2 separate regions of the Homo sapiens genome follow, and region 1 is linked to region 2. The links come from fine-mapping of genetic effects on gene expression. A gene starts in region 2. The other region holds a variant in brackets. All regions are shown on one strand. Distances are between the middles of the regions. Region 1 has its middle 18 kb from the start of RBM4B. Region 2 holds the start of SLC29A2 (solute carrier family 29 member 2).

What was found.
Region 1: its variant is fine-mapped to the expression of SLC29A2 in whole blood (TOPMed, PIP above 0.99).

What each region holds. Positions count from the first base shown.
Region 1 is chr11:66,656,358-66,664,357 of GRCh38, reverse strand. It overlaps a transcript of RBM4 not described here. Among named protein-coding and RNA genes, the nearest start is that of RBM4B, 18 kb to the left of the region's middle. The variant A/G (reference allele first, on the strand shown) is at 4,327.
Region 2 is chr11:66,364,608-66,380,456 of GRCh38, reverse strand. It overlaps SLC29A2 (solute carrier family 29 member 2), which reads left to right and starts at 8,697. Exons shown (of 12, transcript NM_001532.3): 1 at 8,697-8,894; 2 at 9,132-9,213; 3 at 10,925-11,088; 4 at 11,258-11,397; 5 at 11,786-11,920; 6 at 12,588-12,685; 7 at 12,909-12,993; 8 at 13,893-14,026; 9 at 14,226-14,331; 10 at 14,436-14,521. The coding sequence starts at 8,866. RefSeq lists a silencer at 8,242-9,001.

The DNA.
Region 1 (8,000 bases), 290 kb before region 2:
GCCAACATGGCGAAACCCTGTCCCTACTAAAAATACAAAAATTAGCCAGGCGTGGTGGCGAGTGCCTGTAGTCCCAGCACTTGGGAGGCTGAGGCAGGAGAATTGCTTGATCCCAGGAGGCAGAGGTTGCAGGGAGCCGAGATGGCACCACTGTACTCCCATCTCAAAAAAAAAAAAAAAAAAAAACAGCTGGGCATGGTGGTGCATGCCTGTAATCTCAGCTACTCAAGAGGCTGAAGTGGGAGACTCTTGAGCCCAGGAGGTTGAGGCTGCAGTGAGCTGTGATCATGCCACTGCACTCCATTCTGGGCAACAGGAGGCCCTGTCTCCAAAACAACAAAAAAGGATTTAGGTTAGTGCTGTGGCTTCAGTAATAGGTGGTAGGAAGTTAGCCAGATTCTTGAGACACTGCTAAATTTGCTACAGCTGGTGGTGAGGCTACTTTTCTCTAACCAGAGCTGCTCTTAAACCAGTTTAAAGGCTAACAGACTCAGATTAGTAGTGCTAGGAGTAAGCCCTGCATCAGAAAAAGGCTGAGCCAGATTCTCTCCAAGGACCTATCACATTAACTAAATTTGACTTCATAGTTTTCTGGCTCATATTTACAAAACAAAAAGAAAACATATATACACACACACACACACACACACACACATATACACACACATTTTTGCCTAGTTACCACCCCTCTCCAGTGTTTCTCCTTTTTTAATTTTTAAAAAACAATTAGGCCAGGCACAGTGGCTCATGCCTGTAATCCCAGCACTTTGGGAGGCCAAGGCACACGAATCACGAGGTCAGGAGATCAAGACTAAAATACAAAAAATTAGCTGGATGTGGTGGCGGGCGCCTGTAGTCCCAGCTACTCGGGAGGCTGAGGCAGGAGAATGGCGTGAACCAAGGAGGCAGAGGTTGCACTGAGCCGAGATCACGCCACTGCACTCCAGCCTGGGTGACAGAGCGAGACTCCATCTCAAAAAAATAAAAAATTAAATTCACTTATGAGCTATTAAAAGAGGTCTGTCTTCCCAAGGTGCTAATATTCTGCTAGGATTAGGCTTTGGCTAAAATATTCATACATAGTACTTTGAGCAGAAAAGCAAATCACATATTAATGATTAGCAGTGACATTTTGCAGTAAAGTATGTCTTCTAGATTATGGACATCTTATTTATCTTTGTTTAGATCCCCATAGAACACATTTAATGATGGACTCAACTCTACTTAAGCTTTATTGTACTTTATATGGAAATGTTGATGTGTAAATTCTGACTACATGTGAAATTTTACCTACAATAATAAAGCATTTACCTCACATATTTTATACTTAATCTTGACAGGTGAAGCAAAAATTTTCCCTTATTTCTTAGGGGAATGGTCTGACAATCTACAGAAGTTAACCTGTCCATCCATGCACACATTCCAACCAGTGGTGATGTACATAAGGCTCATGTTAGCGTCAGTATTCCCCAAGGAAGCAAGACTGTCTCTGTTTTACAAAAGGGAAAATAAGGCAAAGATGCTGGGATTTTCTTATGATCTGCAAGGCACTATGCAGAGCCAAGAAAAAAAATTTGCAGGTTTTGCTGGCCTCAGCAAAATCTCTGGTGGTTCTGTGCTAGGTTTCAACCAATTTAACATAGGAAGTTTAACATATACCAGGTGCGTGACTCACGCCTGTAATCCTAGCATTTTGGGAGGCTGAGGCAGGTGGATTGCCCGAGCTCAAGAGTTTGAGACCAGCCTGGGCAACATGGTGAAACCCCATCTCTACTAAAAATACAAAAAATTAGCCGGGCATGGTGGTGTGCACCTGTAATCCCAGCTACTAGGGAGGCTGAGGCACAAGAATCGCTTGAACCCAGGAGGCAGAGGTTACAGTGAGCCAAGATCACGCCAATGCACTCCAGCCTGGGCAACAGAGTGAGACTCTGTCTCAAAAAAATAAATAAATAAATAAAAGTATCTTGATTTCTATGTCATTGGCACAAGAAAAAAAATTTTCTGCAAAAGAGTTCTATATCATCACTGCCCAATAACACTCCTGGCAGTGATGGAAGTGTTCCATATCTGTGCTGTCCAATTTGTGGCTACTGTGGTTACTGAGTACCTGAAATGTGGTTTATTCCACTGAGAAACTGAGTTTTTTATTTAATTATAATTAGCTACATGTAGCTAGTGGCTACTCTATTGGACAGCAGTTTAGATAGTAAAATAAGCTGCTCATAGGTGGAGAAAAAGCCCTGCAGAATTGCATAATTTTTATTTTAGAAAACCTTTCACACCAAAAGAGTACTGTTGAGTAGGACAAATGTATTTTTTTGTTTTGAGATGGAGTCTCGCTCTGTCACTGAGGCTGGAGTGCACTGGCATGATCTCGGCTCACTGCAACCTCTGCCTCCCAGGTTCAAGCAATTCTCCTGTCTCAACCTCCCCAGTAGCTGGGATCACAGTCGCGCGCCACCACGCCTGGTGAATTTTCGTATTTTTAGTGGAGATGGGGTTTCACCATATTGGTCAGGCTGGTCTTGAACACCTGACCTCAGGTGATCCACCCACCTCGGCTTCCCAAAGTGCCGGGATTACAGGCGTGAGCCACCACACCTGGCCAATGTTTTTATTCCTAAACCTTACTTCTTATATGATAAATTGCATATTGTGAATACAAAATTCCTTTAGTTCACCAAGTTTCTCACTATAGACCATTTCAGAGTCCCATGAGGCCTCTCAACGCTAAAAGCTCCTGAATTCATTTATCAACTGTTTGAATTCCTACTATGAGCTAGGATGTGGGAACATGGTGATGAATGAGGCATATGTGGTTTCTGTAGCCTCAGATCTACCCCCTTCCTCAGGTTTCCAGCATGGCACAGAAAGACACTAGGCCCTCAGGGCACTCAAGGTGCTGTTAGAAACTTGTCCTAAGGGCAGAAAAAGGTTGGCTGCCTGCAAGATGGACCAGAAAAGGGAAGCAACTTGCCCCAGATTGGTTTCATAGCTTGTCAGGATTTTGCTTACAAACCTGGTCCTCAGGAAGTCACCTGGCCTAGGAGATTTGGGAAAAGGAAGGAGGGGAGAAATAAATATTCCTGGGAAGAGCTGTCAGTTTGTTGGAAGATCAATCTCGGCTTTCTTCAGACCAGAGCTAGGCTCTGCCGCTGAGGAGAAATGAAATGCAAGAAATGATAGAATCAGCTCCAGGAACTTGCAGGAGAAGAATGAAAAATCTGACGAGATGAATTCAATCTGAAGTGCCTTAGGTTTGCAGGGCCTTTGAGAATCCAGGCCAAATTCAAACCGTGTATCTGTCACCCCTGCAAATCCACAAGAACCCAATGAGGTAGCATCACTGGCTCTCCCAGCAATTAAGGCTACTGAGATTTAGAAAGTTTAGGCCGGGCACGGCTGAGCGCAGTGGCTCACGCCTGTAATCCCAGCACTTTGGGAGGCCGAGTCGGGTGGATCACGAGGTCAGGAGATCGAGACCATCCTGGCTAACATGGTGAAACCCTGCCTCTACTAAAAATACAAAAAAAATTAGCCAGGTATGGTGGCACATGCCTGTAGTCCCAGCTACTCGGGAGGCTGAGGCAGAAGAATGGCGTGAACCCGGGAGGCAGAGCTTGCAGTGAGCTGAGATCGCACCACTGCACTCCAGCCTGGGCGACAGAGCAAGACTCCATCTCAAATTAAAAAAAAAAAAAAAAAGTTTAGGTCGGGTGCAGTGGCCTACCTACACCTGTAATCCCAGCACTTTGGGAGCCGAGGTAGAAGGATCACCTGAGGTCTGGAGTTTGAGACCAGCCAGGACAACATGGCGAAACCCTGTCTCTACTAAAACTACAAAAAAATTAGGCAGAAGCCTGTAATTCCAGCTATTCAGTAGGCTGAAGTAGGAGAATCACTTGAACCCAGGAGGCAAAGGTTGTAGTGAGCCAAGATCGTGCCACTGCACTCCAGCCTGGTTGCAGAGCAAGACTCTGTCTCAAAAAAAAAAAAAAAAAAAGAGAGACTCCCATCTCAAAAAAAAAGAAATTGTGATAAGTACCACAAATTACACAAAATGGGTCCAATGGCAGGGAATAATGGGAGGACATATCTACTAAGCTACAGGTGGTTTGGGAGGGCATTCCAATACTTGATCCTGAAGCTAAGACCTGAAGTTAAGTTAGCTCTAAAGCAGTAAAGAGAAAGGTCCCTTCAGATTTAAAAAAAAAAAAAAAAAAAAGGCCCTGAGGCAGGAAAGAGCTCAGTGTATACAAGGATCTGAAAGGAGAGTCAGTATGGTCAGAAAAGGATAGATAAGCAGGGAAAAGGGCCTGAGAT[A/G]ATAAAGTGTGACAGAGGAAAGGCACGTTCAAACTAAGGGATTGGGCATTTTACTTTAGATAAAAGGGGAAGTTGCTGAAAGGTTCTAAGTAACGAAAGAAACATCTGATTTACATACATTTCACAAGAACATTCTGGCTATTAAATGGAGAATACTTTGAAGACCCAAGGGTAAGAAAAAGATGGACCTGGAGGTCACTGTAGTCATCTTGGTGGGAGAGGATAGCATGGTCTAGACTATGGCTGTGGCAAAGACATGGAGAAAAGAGGCAACATGTGATATAAACATGATCAAGAGCTGCTAATGGTTGGGGAGGGCGTAAGAATGACTACCAGCAATCTGGCTGAAAGAGAGAATGGGATAAGGAAGACTGAAGGAGAAATGATTTTAGAGTGGGGAGTCTCAGGAGCTCTATCTCAGATATACCAAGTTTGAGGTGTATTAAGACAACCAGCCAGGTGCAGTAGCTCATGCCTGTAATCCCAGCAAGTTGGGAGGCCAAGGCGGGCAGAACCCGAGGTCGGTAGTTCGAGACCAGCCTGGCCAATATGGTGAAATCCCGTCTCTAAATTTTGTATCTAAAGATACAAAAATTAGCCAGGTGTAGTGGCACGTGCCTGTAGTCCTAGCTACTCAGGAGACTGAGGCAGAAGAATCACTTGAATCCGGGGGGCGGAGCTTGCAGTGAGCCGAGATCGCGCCACTGCACTACAGCCTGGGCAACAGAGTGAGACTCCATCTCAAAAAAAAAAAAAAAAAAAAAAAAAGAACCAAGAAGAAATGTCAGCTAGGTGTCCAGATCCCTGAATCTTGAGCACAGAAGAGAGGTTTCAAACTGGAGATATCAAGAGTCTTTAGCACCTGGATCAGTGTTACATAACAGAAATACAATGTGAGCCACAAATGCAAACCACATAGGGAACTGAAACAGGTGAAATTAAATTGTATTAATTTTATTTTCCCCAGATAGTCTGGTGGTTAGGAAAAAAAAAAATTTTAATGTATTTTTACCCAATATGTGCAAAAAAATGACCATTTCAACATATAATGAGCATTAAAAACTGAATATATATATATATATATTTTTTTTTTTTGAGAGACACTCTTGCTCTGTTGCCCAGGCTAGAGTGCCGTGGCCCAATCTTGGCTCAATAGAACCTCCGCCTCCCAGGTACAAGCAATTCTCCTGTCTCAGCCTCCCAAGAAGCTGGGACTACAGGCACGTGCCACCACGCCTGGCTAAGTTTTGTATTTTTAGTAGAGATGGGGTTTCACCACCTTGGCCAGGCTGGTCTCAAACTCCTGACATCAAGTGATCTGCCCACCTTGGCCTCCCAAAGTGCTGGGATTACAGGCGTGAGCCACTGCGCCTGGCTTATATTAATTTTTTAAATCCCATAGGTATTTGGTACTCGCAGCACTGTATATGTCTCTGGCTACCACACTGAACAGCACAACTCCATATGGTATACAAAGCCAAAGCAATGAATGAAGTCTTGAAGAGGATTTCAAACTTGGCACTAGTGATAACTGGGAAAGGTGCCCCTCCTGTGCATTGGAGGATGTTTAGCCACATCCCTGGCGGGAGAAACCCCCTAAATTGTGACAATTAACAATGATTTCAGGGAATCTCTGAGCCTATTCTAGTTGCCCATTTAAAACAAAACGAAAAAAAAAAAAAAAAAAAAAAAAAGGTCAGACTAGGCCAGGCACAGTGGCTCACGCCTGTAATCCCAGCATTTTGGGAGGCCGAGGCAGGCGGATTACCTGAGGTCGGGAGTTCAAAACCAACCTGACCACCACGGAGAAACCCCATCTCTACTAAAAATACAAAATTAGACGGGCGTGGTGGTGCATGCCTGTAATCCCAGCTACTAGGGAGGCTGAGGCAGCAGAATCGCTTGAATCCAGGAGGCAGAGGTTGCACTGAGCCGAGATCGTGCCGTTGCACTCCAGCAGCCTGGGCAACAAGAGCAAAACTCCATCTCAAAAAAAAAAAATTTTAAAAAAGGGTCAGACTAGGTGGCTCACGCCTGTAATCCCAGCACTTTGGGAGGCTGAGGCAGGCAAATGGCTAGAGCTCAGGAGTTCAAGACCAGCCTGGGCAACATGGCAAAACCACAACTACAAAATACAGAAATTAGTTGGGCATGCTGGCATGCGCCAGTGGTCCCAGCTACTCGGGAGGCTGAGGTGAGAGAATTGCTTGAGCCCGGGAGGAGGTGGAGGTTGAACACGGCACTCCAGCCTGGGTGACATAGGAAGACCCTGTCTCAAAAAAAAGGTGGGGGAGGGGGCAGGCGAGGTGGCTCATGCCTATAATTTTTTTTTTTTTTTTTTTTTTTTTTGAGATGGAATCTTGCTCTGTCGCCCAGGCTAGAGTGCAGTGGCGCTATCTCATCTCACTGCACCCTCCACCTCCCGGGTTCAAGTGATTCTTCTGCCTCAGCCTCCCAAGTAGCTGGGACTACAGGTGCGCACCACGACAACTGGCTAATATTTTACATTTTTAGTAGAGACGGGGTTTCATCATGTCGGCCAGGCTGCTCTCGAGCTCCTGACCTCAAGTGATCCACCCCCTCGGCCTCCCAAAGTGCCGGGATTACAGGTGTGAGCCACCGCGCCCGGCCTAATCTTAGTAGTCTGGAAGGCTGAGACAAGAGTATAGCTTGAGCCAGGAGTTCCTAACCAGCCTGGGCAACATAGGGAGACCCCATCTCTACCAAAAGATAAAAATAAAAAATAAATTAGCCAGGTGCAATGGTGCATACCTCTGTAGTTCCAGCTACTTGGAAGGTTGAGATGGGAAGACCGCTTCAGCTCAGAAGGTTGAGGCTGCATTGAGCCATACTCATACCACTGTACTCCAGCCTAGGCAACAGAGCAAGACCGCACCTAAAAAAAAAAAAAAAAAAAAAAAAAGACTAAAAAATTGATCAGGGGCTGAGGATTAACTACAAAGGGGCACAAGGGCTTTTTGGCTGACAAAAATGTTCTGTATTTTGATTGCAACAATGGGAACAAGATTGTAACCATCAGTTACCAAAATTACCAGTACATTGTCAAACTGGGCATGGTGGCTCACGACTGTGCCTATAATCCCAGCACTTTGGGCGGCCAAGGTGGTGGATCACCTAAGGTCAGGAGTTCAAGACCAGCCTGGCCAACATGGTGAAACTCCGTCTCTGCTAAAAATATAAAAATTAGCTGGACATGGTGGCATGCATCTATAATCCCAGTTACTCAAAAGGCTGAGGCACAAAAATCGCTTGAACCCGGGAGGTGGAGATTGCAGTGAACCGAGATCATGTCACTGCACTCCAGCCTGGGCAATAGAGTGAGACACCATCTTTTTAAAAAACAAAACAAAAGGCCCCCCAAAAAAGTACATTGTCACAATGTGTCAAATTGTTTTCAAAATTGGTATATTTTATTGTTTGAAAATAATACTTCAGGCCGGGCATAGTGGCTCATGCCTGTAACCTCAGCATTTTGGGAGGCCAAGGTGAGCAGATCAACTGAGGCTGGGAGTTCGAGACCAGTCTGACTGACATGGAGAATCCCCGTCTCTACTAAAAAAATAGAAAATTAGGCCAGGCACGGTGGCTCACACCTGTAATCCCAGCACTTTGGGAGGCCGAGGCGGGTGGATCACAAGGTCATGAGATCGAGA
Region 2 (15,849 bases):
GTATCACCATGTTGGCCAGGATTGTCTTGATCTCCTCACCTCGTGACCCGCCCACTCAGCAAGTTACTGCATTGTTCATCGACAATACTTGGCCATCAAGAATGTTCACAAAATACTACAAATCAATGAATGTTTTCCCACGTTGTTATTAGGTTGAATCATGGGAAATAGACATTTTGTGGGTTAGAAAGCAACTTGATGAAGAGCATCCACAAAAAAACTACAGCTAACTATATACTTTATAGCGACAAACTTGAAGCTTTTCTGGTAAGATCAGGGACAAGGCAAGAATGTCCCCTCTCACCACTGCTTTTCAACATCCTACTGGAAGTTTTAGCCAACACAATAAGTTAATAAAAGGAAATAAAAGGCATACAGATGGGGAAAGAAGAAATAAAACTGTCTTTGTTTGCTAATGACATAATTTCCTAGGTAGAAAACCTGAAAGAATCAAAAAAGCTTTGGAAATAATAAGCAATTATACCAAGGCTGGAGGATACAGGTTAATATTCAAAAGTCAATCTTTTTTTTTTTTTTTTTTTTTTTTTGAGACAGAGTTTTGCTCTTGTTGCCCAGGCTGGAGTGCAATGGCGCGATCTTGGCTCACCGCAACCTCCGCCTCCTGCATTCAAGCGATTCTCCTACCTCAGCCTCCCGAGTAGCTGAGATTACAGGCATGCGCCACCACGCCCAGCTAATTTTTTTGTATTTTTAGTAGAGACGGGGTTTCTCCATGTTGGTCAGGCTGGTCTCGAACTCCCGACCTCAGGTGATCCGCCCGCCTCGGACTCCTGAAGTGCTGGGATTACAGGCGTGAGCCACCCCGCCCCGCCCCATATTCTTATATATAGCAATGAATGAGCAAAATTTAAAGCACATTATAATTTTTTTACCGCATTAAGAATGTACTCCATAGCCGGGCGTGGTGGCTCACGCCTGTAATCCCAGCACTTTGGGAAGCCAAGACGGGCGGATCACGAGGTCAGGAGATCAAGACTATCCTGGCTAACACGGTGAAACCCTGTCTCTACTAAAAATACAAAAAAATTAGCAGGGCGTGGTGGCGGGCGCCTGTAGTCCCAGCTACTAGGGAGGCTGAGGCAGGAGAATGGCGTGAACCTAGGAGGCGGAGCTTGCAGTGAGCCAAGATCGCACCACTGCACTCCAGCCTGGGCGACAGAGCGAGACTCTGTCTCAAAAGAAAAAAAAAAAAGAATGTACTCTATAAAAAGAGGAAAAAAATGCAATTTTTTTTAGCAACTTGTACATTTCAGAAGGTACAAACTGCTTTGTGAAATCAACCAAACATTTTTAGTGGGTGCTCCTCTTTTCTTTTTTTTTTTATTATTATACTTTAAGTTCTAGGGTACATGTGCACAACGTGCAGATTTGTTCCATAGGTATACATGTGCCATGTTGGTTTGCTGCGCCCATTAACTCGTCATTTGCATTAGGTATTTCTCCTAATGCTATCCCTCCCCCTGCCCCCCACCTCACGACAAGCCCCTGGGTGTGACGTTACCCACCCTGTGTCCAAGTGTTCTCATTGTTCAATTCCCACCTATGAGTGAGAACACGCGGTGTTTGGTTTTCTGTCCTTGTGATAGTTTGCTCAAAATGAGGGTTTCCAGCTGCATTCATGTCCCTGCAAAGGACATGAACTCATCCTTTTTTTTTTTTTTTTTTTTTTTTGAGACGGAGTCTCGCTCTGTCCCAAGGCTGGAGTGCAGTGGCACGATCTCGGCTCACTGCAAGCTCCGCCTCCTGGGTTCATGCCATTCTCCTGCCTCAGCCTCCCGAGTAGCTGGGACTACAGGCGCCCGCCACCGCGCCCTGCTAATTTTTTTGTATTTTTAGTAGAGACGGGTTTCACTGTGTTAGCCAGGATGGTTTTGATATCCTGACCTCGTGATCCGCCTGCCTTGGCCTCCCAAAGTGCTGGGATTACAGGCATGAGTCACCGCGCCCAGCTGAACTCATCCTTTTTTATGGCTGCATATATTCCATGATGTATATGTGCCACATTTTCTTAATCCAGTCTATCATTGATGGACATTTGGGTTGGTTCCAAGTCTTTGTTATTGTGAATAGTGCTGCAATAAACATACATGAAAGCACATTATAATTTACATTACCATCCCAGAAATGGAAATAGTTACGTGTAATGAATATAACAAAATATGCAAGATCCATATGAGGAAAACTGTAAGACTCTGATGAAAGATATCAAAGAAGAATTAAATAAATGGAGAGGCCTGGGACCGGTGGCTCATGCCTAGGATTCCAGCACTTTGGGAGGCCAAGGTAGAAGGATCACTTGAGTCCAAGAGTTTGAGATGAGTCTGGGAAACATAGTGAGACTTATTCTCTACAAAAAATTAAAAAATTAGCTCAGTGGTGGCACATGCCTGTGGTTCCAGCTACTCAGGAGGCTGAGGAGGGAGGATCGACTGAGCCCGGGAGGTTGAGGCTGCAGTCAGCTGTCACTGCACCGTTGCACTCCAACCTGGACATCCGAGTGAGACCTTGTCTCAAAATTAAATAAATAAATAAATAAATAAATAAATAAATAAATAAATAAATAAAATGGAGAGATATTCCCTGTTCATGGATAGGAGAGCTTCATATTGTCAAGATATCTCTCCTTCCCAACTTGATCTATAGATTAAGCATGATTCCAATCAAAATCCCAGAAAATTATTTTGTGGATATTGACAAACTGATTCTAAAGCTTAGGTGAAGTGGCAAAAGACTCAGAATAGCCAACACAATATAGGAAAAGAGCAAACTCAAAGGACTGACACTACCCAAGTTAAGTATTTAATATAACGGCCAGGAGCGGTGGCTCATGCCTGTAATCTCAGCACTGTGGGAGGCCGAGGCAGGCAGATTACGAGGTCAGGATTTCAAGACCAGCCTGACCAATATGGTGAAACACGGTCTCTACTAAAAATACAAAAATTAGCTGGGCATGATGGCATGTGCCTGTAGTCCCAGCTACTCAAGAGGCTGAGGCAGGATAATCGCCTGAACCCGGGAGGTGGAGGTTGCAGTGAGCCAAGATCGCACCACTGCACTCCAGCCTGGGCAACTGAGCGAGACTCCATTTCAAAAAAAAAAAATTAATATAGCTACAGTTATCAAGAGAGTGTGCTATTAGTGAAAGAATAGACAAATAGATCAATGAAACAGAACTCAGAGCCCAGAAATAGAGCCACATAAATATAGTCAAATGATCTTGGTCAAAGGAGCAAAGGAAATACAACAGAATAAAGACAGTCTTTTCAACAAACGGTGCTGGAACGACTGGACATCCACATGGGAAAATTGAATCTAGACACAGACCTTAAATCATTCACAAACATTAGCTTAAAATTGGTCATGTAAAACACAAAGCTATATAAAACACTTAAACTGTACATAACTATATAAAACTCCTAGAAGATAACATAGGAGAAAACCTAGATCATCTTGGATATAGTGATAACTTTTTAGATACAACTCCAAAGGCACAAGGCATGAAATAAGTAGTATAGGTTGGACTTCGTTAAAATTAAAAACTTCTGCCCTGCGAAAGACACTGTTGAGAGAATGAAGAGAAAAGCCACAGACTGGATAAAATATTTTCAACACACACATCAGATAACAGACTGTTATCCAAAATATACAAAAAAGGGCCAGGCATGGTGGCTCACATCTGTAATCCCAGCACTTTGGGAGGCCGAGGCAGGTGGATCACCTGCGGTCAGGAGTTCAAGACCAGCCTGGCCAACACGGTGAAACCCCATCTCTACTGCAAATACACAAAATCAGCTGGGCATGGTGACGTGCACCTGTAATCCCAGCTACTGGTGAGGCTGAGGCAGAGAATCACTTGAACCCGGGAGGCAGAGGTTGCAGTGAGCCGAGATTGAGCCATTGCACTCCAGCCTGGGCGACAGAGTGAGACTCCGTCTCAAAAAAATACAAAAATTAACAAATAAATAAATAAATAAAACAAGATATCGCTGCACACTTATTAGACTGGCTAAACTCTAAAACATTAACACCAAGTGCCCACAAAAATGTGGAGCATCAAGAATTGTTTCATTGTTGCTGGGAACAAAAAATGGTACAGGCACTTTGGAAGATAGTTTGGCAGTTTCTTACCAAACTAAACAGTCTTACCATATGACCTAGCAATGGTGCTCCTCGGCATTTAACCCAAATAAATTGAAAACTTATGTCCACACAAAAACCTCCACACAATTGTGTATAGCATCTTTATTTGTGATCACCAAAACATGGAAGCCACCAAGACGTCTTGAAATAGGTAAATGGATAAACAAACCATGGCAATTCATACAATGGAGTATTATTTAGCAATAAAAATAAATGTGTTGCCTGGGCGCGGTGGCTTATGCCTGTAATCCCAGCACTTTGGGAGGTCGAGACAGGCAGATCACTTGAGGCCAGGAGTTCGAGACCAGCCTGGTCAACATGGGGAAACCCTGTCTTTGCTAAAAATACAAAAATTAGCTGGGCATGGTGGCAGGCACCTGTAATCCCAGCTACTTGGTAGGCTGAGGCAGAAGAATCACTTGAACCTGGGAGGCAGAGGTTGCAGTGAGCTGAGATCATGCCACTGGACTCCAGTCTAGGCGACAAGAGTGAAACTCCATCTCAAAAATTTAAAAAATTAAAAAAAAAAGAAATGAATTATCATGCCAAGAAAAGACATGCAGGATCCTTAAGCACACATATAAATGAAAGAAGCCAGGTTGGGCCCAGTAGCTTATGCCTGTAATCTCAGCACTTTGGGAGGCTGAGGCCGGTGGATCACTTGAGGTCAGGAGTTCGAGACCAGCCTGGCCAACATGGTGAAACCCTGTCTCTACTAAAAATACAAAAATTAGCCAGGTGTGGTGGCTCGCACCTGTAATCCCAGCTACTCGGGAGGCTGAGGCAGGAGAATCGCTTGAACCTGGGAGGTGGAGGTTGCAGTGAGCCGAGATCACGCCATTGCACTCCAGCCTGGGCAACAAAAGCAAAACTCCATCTCAAATAATAATAATAATAATAATCATCATCATCATCATCATCATCATCATCATCATCATCAATGTTGAATGAAATTCAGTACACAGGTTTAACATTAGATTAAGTACAACCTAAAAATAAAATCTATTATTTATTTTTTAAAACCATGTTGATAATTTTTCTGAGCCTAGACTCTAAATCCTTTTTACATTTAGACAAAATGTATTATTTGCAAGGCTTGAATATACACAGCATTCTTCAGTAACACAGCTACTGTCTGTGTTGACGGACAGCTGCCCTTTGACTTCTTTGGAACTTGACCAGGACTTGGTCACATTTAAGAAAATCACATCCTAGCATAAAGAAAAGACAAATATTTAAGGTGATGGACATCTCAGTTGTCCTAGTTTGATCTTTACACATTATATGAATAGATTAAATTATCACATACACCCTGAAAATATGTACATCTATTATGTATCAAAAAAATAAATAAATAGGGCCAGGAGCGGTGGCTCACGCCTGTAATCCCAGCACTTTGGGAGGCCGAGGCAGGTGGATCACGAGGTCAGCAGTTCGAGATCAGCCTAACCAACATGGTAAAACCCTGTCTCCACTAAAAATACAAAAAAATTAGCTGGGCGTGGTGGTGGGCGCCTGTAATCTCAGCAATTTGGGATGCTGAGGCAGGAGAATTGCTTGAAACCGGAAGGTGGAGTTTGCAGTGAGCCAAGATTGCACCACTGCACTGTAGCCTGGGCAATAAGAGCAAAACTCTGTCTTAAAAAATAATAATAATAAGTAAAATAAAATAAAATAAATAAAAATAAAATTTAAAACATAAATGAGGAAAAAAGTTTTTTTTTAGGCCGGGCACTGTGGCTCACGCCTGTAATCCCAGCACTTTAGGAGGCTGAGGTGGGTGGATCACGAGGTCAGGAGTTCAAGACTAGCATGGCCAAGATGGTGAAACCCCATCTTTACTAAAAAATACAAAAATTAGCCGGGCATAGTGGCTTGTGCCTGTAATCCCAGCTACTAGGGGAGGCTGAGGCAGGAGAATCACTTGAACCTGGGAGGCAGAGGTTGCAGTGAGCTGAGATTGCGCCAGTGCACTCTAGCCTAGGTGACAGAGCAAGACTGTGTCTCAAAAAAAAAATTGTTTTTTTTTTTAAAGAAAAGAGGCTGGGTTTAGTGGCTTATGCCTGTAATTACAGCACTTTAGGAGGCTGAGACGGGCAGATCACCTGAGGTCAGGAGCTCGAGACCAGCCTGGCCAACATGGCGAAATCCTGTCTCTACTAAAAATACAAAAATTAGCCAGGCATCATGGCACACGCCTGTAATCCCAGCTACTCAGGAGGCTGAGGCAGGAGAATCGTGTGAGCCCAGGAGGCAGAGGTTGTAGTGAGCCAAGATCCTGCCACTGCACTCTGGCCTGGGCAACAGAGAGAGACTCCGTCTGAAAAAAAAAAAAAAAAGAAAAAAAAAGAGAAAAAGAAAAGAAAAAAAAAGGTAAGAAAAGAAAAGAAAATCCTGGCAAACTAGTGGGTCTCTGAGTGGCCAGTTTCACTGCATGCCTGTATCGCATGTGAGTTTGTAGCCGTGGATTCACTGCAGTTTTAGAAAGAAGGGCAAGCATTTGACAGCTTCATGTACCATGAATATTAACACATTCACACACACCATGTTATTACTAAATAATTTCCCTTATGATTCATCTGCAGTAAAATCAGGATATTATCTCGACATCAAATGTTATTGTGTATAGGTAGGTTTTGTTTTATATGAGTTTCATTGCAGGATAGTAACAAAATATTTATTACAAGGACGATGGAATCGGCTCCAGCTGACCGTCTGTGCTTTGAAATGAAATCTGAACTCCTTAATCAGCCCTCAGACTTGCCATAACCAGCCTGGCTGTTGTAGAGGCTCTGTCCCCTCCTCCCACCAATGCCAGCCAAAGGGATCTATTTGTATGTCCCAGAATGTGTCAGCACTCTCTTGTCCCTTGTCTTGGGACAGGCTGTTCTCTCCCTGAAATGCCCTCATCCTCTCCCTTCACTGTCTCAACAAATTCAGTGCTCCCTAGCCTCCATTCTCAAGTCCTTCCTTCACAACCTGTGCCATAGCTGTGCTGCACCAGCGGCCTCGCTTTTCTTTAAATAACTCATTTTCCATAAATAAATTGATTTTTCAAAGAAAAGTTGATATCATAATCATAAATAGGAAACCAGTATGAGTAGCCCTGAAAATAAAGTTGCTATAAAAATAAATATAAGAAAAATACAAGTTAATAACTTTTGATAAAATTGTCAGCAGACCCTCTGAGGCTAACTGAGGGGAAGGGATGGGAAGGCAGATTAAGAAGTGTTAGCAACCTGTTAACACCCTTGACATATTCAGAGGCTTGAAAGAAAATGGGAAGAATAACTTTCTCTTTCGGTGTAATTTAATGCTGTCTCTGTTCTCCCTAAAATCACCTGCATTTTACTGCAACCACCCATTTATCACTCAACGGCGCTAGATGCTGCCAGTAAACCAATGGACCAGATAAGCACAGCCTCTGCCCCTACAGACTCTCAGTCGGCTGGAGGAAAAACATAAGCAACCTGGGAATGGCTATAAAATGTCATTGCTTAAGAAAATAGTTTGTGGCCGGGCGTGGTGGCTCACGCCTGTAATAGCAACATTTTGGGAGGCCGATGCGGGCGGATCACCTGAGGTCAAGAGTTCGAGACCAGCCTGGTCAAAAGATGAGTTCGAGACTAGACTGGCCACCTCTTCAGTAGAGCTGGTGAAGCCCCGTTTCTACTAAAAATACAAAAATTAACCGGACGTGGTGGCATGCGCCTGTAGTCCCAGCTACTCCTGAGGCTGAGGCACCAGAATCGCTTGAACCTGCCTGGGAGGGGGAGGTTGCAGTGAGCCAAGATCACGCCACTGCACTTCCGCCTGGGCGACAGAGCGACACTCAGTCTCAAAAAAACTAGTTTGTGTTTTGGAGCCTCTCACTTCTCCAGCGTCCCCGATACGCCCGGGGATTGCAGAGAACCCACACCTATTCGTAGATTATGAGAGTAGGAGCAAATTAATGATTTATAGTCTTTTCAAATTTTTTTTTTTAACAGAAAAAGAGTAGGGAGTTGAAAGTAATGCTGTTTTTTTCCAGGCACTCCCGGGGACCCAGCGCGGCGAAGCCCGCCAGGATCGCGGGCGACCTGTGGCAGCTCTGGTTCCCCCGCCCGGGCCCGGCTCGGGTTACGCTCTGGGCGGGGACTCCGCAGCGGCTCCCTAGTTAGGGGGCGCCCCGGTGGGTTCCAGCTTTAGGGGTCGCAGGAGCGGCTCTGGCATCACCTCGGAGCTGACGAAGCGGGAAGAGCCCCGCACCAGTGCTGCCCCTACAGAGCTCTCGGCGGGGGGTGGAGGTGAGGTTACACCTCGTCCCTACCCCCGCCTTCCCCTCCGCCGCAGGGATCCGGGACCCGCCCCCGCGGAGAGGACGGGGGGCTGCGGGGAGGGGCTGTGCGGGGAGCGGGCGGGTTCCGCAGGCCCCTAGGTGGGGCGGGGCCCGAGCCAGAGTCGAGTCCCTGAGGCGGGTGGGGGAAGGAGAGACGGGTGGCGCGACCCTCTGTCCCCGCCTCGGGGCGGAGCCCAGGTCCCAGCCTGCGGAGCGCGAGACACGCCGAAATCCGCCCGAGGCTACCTGTGCGACTCCAGCCGCCCTGCACCGGAATCTGGGGAGACCCGCCCCCCGCCCCACCGGTCTGCGGCCCTCCGCCCCAGCGCAGGTGCAGGTGCGGCTTCTCTGCCCCTTTCACCCCAGGCGCATCCGCCGCGGCGGCCATGGCGCGAGGAGACGCCCCGCGGGACAGGTGAGTGGGCCCGGGTGCGTTGCAAGTGGCCGGGGGCGTTGCAGACCCGCTCCCTGAAGGCGCTCCGAGGCTCAGAGAAGACCGGATCGAACTACAATTCCCATCAGCCGACTCCCTCGGCCGCCGGAACCGGGGTGATCGGGGTTGTAGTCCGCTCCGGAGGGGGTGGCCTGGGAGGCGGGAGGGCCTGCGGAGGCGGGTGCGTCCTCGGGGTGACCTTCCCACCGATCCCCACAGCTACCACCTGGTCGGGATCAGCTTCTTCATCCTGGGGCTGGGCACCCTCCTTCCCTGGAACTTCTTCATCACCGCCATCCCGGTGAGACTCCTGGCGGCGTGGCAGCCTCGTGGCCACAGCCAGCACCCCTCCCTCCAGCCCTTTGGATGAAGCTTAGCGGGCGCTTCCTCACCGCGCACCTGTGACCCCTCGTTGAGCTCATTATGGGCTGAAGCTCGGAGAGGGGAATGCTTCCCCCGTGGCTAGGAAAGTAGAACTTCAGCAATGCCCACATCTCAGAGGGGCAAGGCCACCAGCCCACAGGGTCTGGAATGAGCAAAGGCGCTGCCACCCCTCTCTGTGTGTCGTTATTCCTGAGTCAGTCACCCCAAAAGTCGGTTATCGAACGTTTGATTTTCTTTGAAATACCATGAATTTCATTCATTCACTCATTCATTCAACAAACTTTTTTTTTTTTTTTTTTTTTGAGACAGAGTCTGGCTCTTTCGCCCAGGCTGGAGTGCAGTGGCGCCATCTCGGCTCACTGCAAGCTCCGCCTCCCGGGTTCACGCCATTCTCCTGCCTCACCCTCCCGAGTAGCTGGGACTACAGGCGCCCGCCGCCACGCGCGGCTATTTTTTTTTGTATTTTTAGTAGAGACGGGGTTTCACCGTGTTAGCCAGGATGGTCTCGATCTCCTGACCTCGTGATCCTCCCGCCTCGGCCTCCCAAAGTGCTGGGATTACAGGCGTGAGCCACCGTGCCCAGCCTCATTCAACAAACTTTTAATGTGCATCTACTGTGGAGCAGGCACTGGGGACACAGGAGGAAACAGCAGGGAGGCTCTTCAGGGAAGGCAGAAATGTGGGGTTTGCATTGTCTTTGGGACCGGGTTATTCATCTGTATTCACTGCAACAACTTTGCAAATGCTTCTTGGGTACTGGCTCTGTGCTGGGCCCTGGAAACCCAGAGATGAATCAGCCCCTGGGCTTGAGAGCAAGAGGGGGCCAAAGAGCTATTAATAATGTAACATGATGCGTGACATTCCAGGCTTGCAGCAGAGTGCAGTGGGTCCCCAGGGGAGGGAGAAAGTTCCTTCTGCTTCATGGAAGAGGAGATTTGTAAATTGGGAGTAGGGTAGGCAAAGTGCATGTGGAGGGGTGTGGTCAGTAGGGCATTCCAGGCCGAGGCGACAGCCATGCCAAAGGCAGGCAGGCAAGAGACGATCAGCCTGTTTAGAGGGAGATCCACAGCCAGGGCTGCCTGGAGCTTAGCAGGATGGAGCAGAAGATGGGGCACAAAGGGAGACTAGGATCTGATTCTGAAGAGCTGTTCCATTTGGGGCTTTGCCCTGCAGGCAATAGGGAGGCATGAATCGGGGTGTTGAGGAGTGAGGAGGTTAAGCAGAGGAGTGGCAGGCTATGTGCTCTAGAGAGAATGCAGTTGTTCAGCACCTAGGCCAAAGCCTGGCTGACAGTAGGCGCTCAATAAATACCCGTGGAATGAATGAATGTAGCAGCTGCTGCAGGAGTGGGGATGGGGGCTGGAACCAGGGCACTGAAGAGGAGGGGCCGTCCAAGGCTGGATCGAGGCTCTTGCTGGGGGCTCTTAATGCTTAGGCTGTGTCCCAGACTTCAGCCATTTAACTCAGCACACATTCATGGAGCTCCGACTGTGTGCCGGCTGCTGGGAACAGAACAAGGACAAGGCAGACAAGTCCCCACAGACATTAGAAAGCAATCACAAGTGAGGGGGAAGGCAGCGGGGGAAGGCTGAGAGGTGCTGACCCTCCACCACCTCCCCACCTGGCAGTACTTCCAGGCGCGACTGGCCGGGGCCGGCAACAGCACAGCCAGGATCCTGAGCACCAACCACACGGGTCCCGAGGATGCCTTCAACTTCAACAATTGGGTGACGCTGCTGTCCCAGCTGCCCCTGCTGCTCTTCACCCTCCTCAACTCCTTCCTGTACCAGTGGTGAGAGGCCTGCCCTGGCTCCTGCGCCCTCTGCCGAGGCAGCTTCATTGAGGCCCTCCCCTGCGCCCCCTGCCCCCCAGCCCTACTGCCCAGCCCCAGGTGTCGAGCCTCCTTCCCCAGCCCCCTCTGGCCTGGGCCCCACTGATGCACTCTGCCTGCTTCTGAGCAGCGTCCCGGAGACGGTGCGCATTCTGGGCAGCCTGCTGGCCATACTGCTGCTCTTTGCCCTGACAGCAGCGCTGGTCAAGGTGGACATGAGCCCCGGACCCTTCTTCTCCATCACCATGGCCTCCGTCTGCTTCATCAACTGTGAGCACCTCCACCCCCTCTCCAGCCAGCCTATGCAGGGCTTCAGCCTGGCCTCATCATTGAAAGGGCCCAGCATATCCGAGAAGGGCAGACAGCATCATGGTCGCTCATATCCCTGGTGAAGAAACTGAGGCCCACAGGGAGGGGAAGAGTCACTTGTCCGGTGACCTAGGAGCAGGCCTCCTGGTCAACAGCCCCACAGACCAATGGCTGCACCTCAGAAGAGGACTGAATAGCGGGTGTTGCCCCCGAGTGCTCAGAGTCCCTAGGGAAGCTCACACCTGCGCAACCTTGTCCAGAGTCCCCTGTGTATCCTGCCGGCACCTCCTCCAGGGAGCCTCTGAGTCTTGCCTAGTTGAGCAGCAGCCCCCATCCCTGTCCTCCACAGCCTTCAGTGCAGTCCTACAGGGCAGCCTCTTCGGGCAGCTGGGCACCATGCCCTCCACCTACAGCACCCTCTTCCTCAGCGGCCAGGGCCTGGCTGGGATCTTTGCTGCCCTTGCCATGCTCCTGTCCATGGCCAGTGAGTGCACTTGGGTGGCTGGAGGGCTGGGGTGGCCTCTGAGGTTTGGGGAAGAGAGAGGGCATGTGAGAGCAAGACACATGGGTTCTGGGTGAAGATGGAGGTAAGCAGGTGATATGGAAATGGGGATTGGGTCTGGGGCTAGGGAGTGGGGCTCATGGGCCCTGCAGTGAGGAGTAATAACCAAGTGAGGACTGGGTTAACTCAGGGACAGGGGCAGGATTCCTGGGGCTAATACTGGCATGTGGCAGCAGGTTGAAGTTGAAGGATAAGGGGATGGGTTTGGGATTCAGATAGTCTTGGGTTTGAATCTGCTTCACCGCTTACCAGCTAGGGGTGTTGGACAAGGCTTGTCACCTCTCTGTGCTAGCTTCCCCACCGACGTGATTGGTATAGCTCCCTGCTCAGATTGTAATGAGCATGCAATGAGAGAAGGCTACTGGCACATAGTACGTGCTCAACAAAAATGACACATGGGGAAAGTGAGAGAAGTGCAGGGCTGCTCTGGGGCCCTGTACAAGATTCCCATTTGTCAGTGAAGGGAGGAGCGGAAGAGGCTGGGAGTGGGTCTGAGAAGTACACAATGGGAAGTGGGACAAGAGTTGGAAGCCCCGTGGGAGCCGGCGGGACCAGGTGCCTCTCTTCTGCAGCTGAAGTTCCTCCGCAGGTGGCGTGGACGCCGAGACCTCTGCCCTGGGGTACTTTATCACGCCCTGTGTGGGCATCCTCATGTCCATCGTGTGTTACCTGAGCCTGCCTCACCTGGTGAGCCTGCTGTTGGGCTCGAGGCCCCACCTCAAAGCATCTTGGATAGAGTCCTGAGCCTGAGGCCCTGAGAGAGGCCAGGGGAGGTGGAGGAGACCTGGTCTCAGCCCTGACCCCCAGAGAAGACACTGAGGGGCCCCAGCCTCCAGGCCAATGGTATGGGGAGGGATCCAGACACCTCAGGCAAGCCAGGCAGGCCCAACACTTTCCTGTCCTTCTGCAGAAGTTTGCCCGCTACTACCTGGCCAATAAATCATCCCAGGCCCAAGCTCAGGAGCTGGAGACCAAAGCTGAGCTCCTCCAGTCTGGTAAGCCCTGAGACCCTCCTGGGGAGGTGGGAGATGCAGAGGAAGCTAGAGCCACCTCCCCTGGGAAGCTGTTCCATCTGTTCCCAGCCAGAGCCCACCCCTAGTAGCCTTGTGCAAACAGGAAGATCATGAAGGGAAGTTGGTAGGATTAAAGTCATCCCTGCTGTTGTTTGGGCCTCAGTTTCCACCTCTATAAAATGGGGAGGCGACAGAGGTTCCATGCATGCAAACTTTGGATCCGAAGACCTCTGAATTGGAATACTAGTTTCACAACATCCCAGCTGTGTGGCCTGAGACAAACCACTTAGCCACTGCACCCCTCTGAACCTCAATGTGTCATTTGTAAAGCAATGGTAATGAGATAATCCATCTAAGGTGCTTCGCTCATCACCCGACCCATGCACGCGCTTCCTGGTAGCTATGCATATTTCCATCATGAATTCCCTTCGCCTGCAGCCTCAGCTTAGGCTGGAGGAAGATCACCTTTTTTTGTTTTGGGGTGAGGGGGTTGTTGTTATTTTGAGTCAGGATCTCACTCTGTCACCTAGGCTGCACTGCAGTGCTATCACAACTCAACTGCAGCCTCGACCTCCTGGGCTCAAGTGAGCCACCTCAGTCTCCCGAGTAGCTGGGACTATAGGTGCAGGCTGCCATGCCCGGCTAATTTTTTTATTTTTGTAGAAATGGGGATTCACCATGTTGCCCAGGCTGGTCTCGAACTCCTGGGCTCAAGCAATATGCCCGCCTCGGCCTTCCAAAATGTTGGGATTACAGGCGTGAGCCACCATGCTGAGCTGAGGATCACTTGTTTTAACTGCTGGGAATCTCCCTTCGTTGGGCCTGGCTGTCGGGAAACCTGGGTCACAAGCATGACCCTTCCCCGTCCCCCCTCACCCCAGATGAGAACGGGATTCCCAGTAGTCCCCAGAAAGTAGCTCTGACCCTGGATCTTGACCTGGAGAAGGAGCCGGAATCAGAGCCAGATGAGCCCCAGAAGCCAGGAAAACCTTCAGTCTTCACTGTCTTCCAGAAGGTTTGGCTTGGATACAGCCCCCAACCACCATCTTTGGGGAAGAATGGGGCTCACATTGACTCCAAGGTCATAGGGTCACAGTGGGTCAGGGACACAGCTGGGCCAGGCCCCAAGTGTCCTGCTCCCACATGGGGCTTGGGCAAGAGGGTGGGGCCCTGGGACTGCCCTGCCTGCTCACACCCCTGCCTCTGGCTCCCAGATCTGGCTGACAGCGCTGTGCCTTGTGTTGGTCTTCACAGTCACCCTGTCCGTCTTCCCCGCCATCACAGCCATGGTGACCAGCTCCACCAGTCCTGGGAAGTGGAGTGAGTGTCAGGGTGGAGAAGACGGCAGGGCAGGGGGTACAAAGGGGAGAGGACGGGAGAGGGGAGTTGGAGACCAGTATGAGCTGCAGCCGTTTCCCTCCCAGGTCAGTTCTTCAACCCCATCTGCTGCTTCCTCCTCTTCAACATCATGGACTGGCTGGGACGGAGCCTGACCTCTTACTTCCTGTGGGTAAGCACACCAGGGCTGGGTGATCCGATGTTTTAGGAAGCAGTTTGGGATCCGAGGGCTTGAAAGAGCATGGAGGTGATTTTCTGGTAGTCCAAATGGCCTGGTAATGCAACCACTGGCCAAGCAGCAGGGAGCACTTGGGCCCTGGAGGCGTGCAGGCCAGGGCTTGCACTGTGAGCTCCCTGAAAGCAAAAATCATGTCCAGCTGACCTCTGTGTCCCCAGCATCCAGCCTTTGCTGCTCAGAGAATGTTACATGGAGGTTCCTGCACCAGGTGAGGGACTGAGCAAGAGTCTTAGTTTTGGGGTTGGTTTTAGCCATGGTACTGTATCTTTAAATGAAATCTTCCAAAGAGACAATACATAACGCAGGTGAAAGAGGAGCTGGTCTCATCCAAGTCAGGACAGGAGCTGATCTACAGCTTCCAATCCCACTCAGAAACCCCATCTGCCCCCAAGGGGGTCTGTGGAACCACCAGTGGGTGCTCTGAGGAACCGAGTACGTAAACTGTAGATGCGGTGGAGAGCACAAGCTGGAGCCTGGGAGAGGCAGAGGTGAGCCCCAGGCCAGTCCCTGATTTCTGGGTGGACTTGGCCCAGGCCCCAGTGCTGGGTCCTCCCTCACTGGCTCACAAGGTAGGTCAGGTCAGAGGAGGTCAGGGGGTGACAGATGGGTCTATCCTATGGGTGGGCCAGGCGTGGTGGCTCACACCTATAATCCTAGCACTCTGGGGCTGGACGCGGTGGCTCACACCTGTAATCCCAGCACTCTGGGAGGCCGAGGCGGGTGGATCACGAGGTCAGGAGTTCGAGACCAGCCTGGCCAACATGGTGAAACCCCGTCTCTACTAAAAAGATAACAATTAGCAGGTGTGGTGGTGCACACCTGTAATCCCAGGGAGGCAGAGGCTGCAGTGAGCCGAGATCGCACCACTGCTCTCCAGCCTGGGAGACAGAGCGAGACTCTGTCTCAAAAACAAACAAACAAAAAAACCCCTAAAATCCGAGCACTTTGGGAGGCCAAGGCAAGAGGATCGCTTGAGCTCAGGAGTTCAAAACCAGCCTGGGCAACACAGTGAGACTTTGTCTGTACACACACACACACACAAATTTTTAATGAAAAAAATAGAGGCCGGGTATGGTGGCTCACGCCTGTAATCCCAGCACTTTGGGAGGCTGAGGCAGGTGGAACACTCGAGGTCAGAAGTTCGAGACCAGCCTGGCCAACATGATGAAACCTGGCTCTACTAAAAATATAAAAATTATCTGGGCATGGTGGTGGCAGGCGCCTATAGTCCCAGCTACTCAGGAGGCTGAAGCAGGAGGATT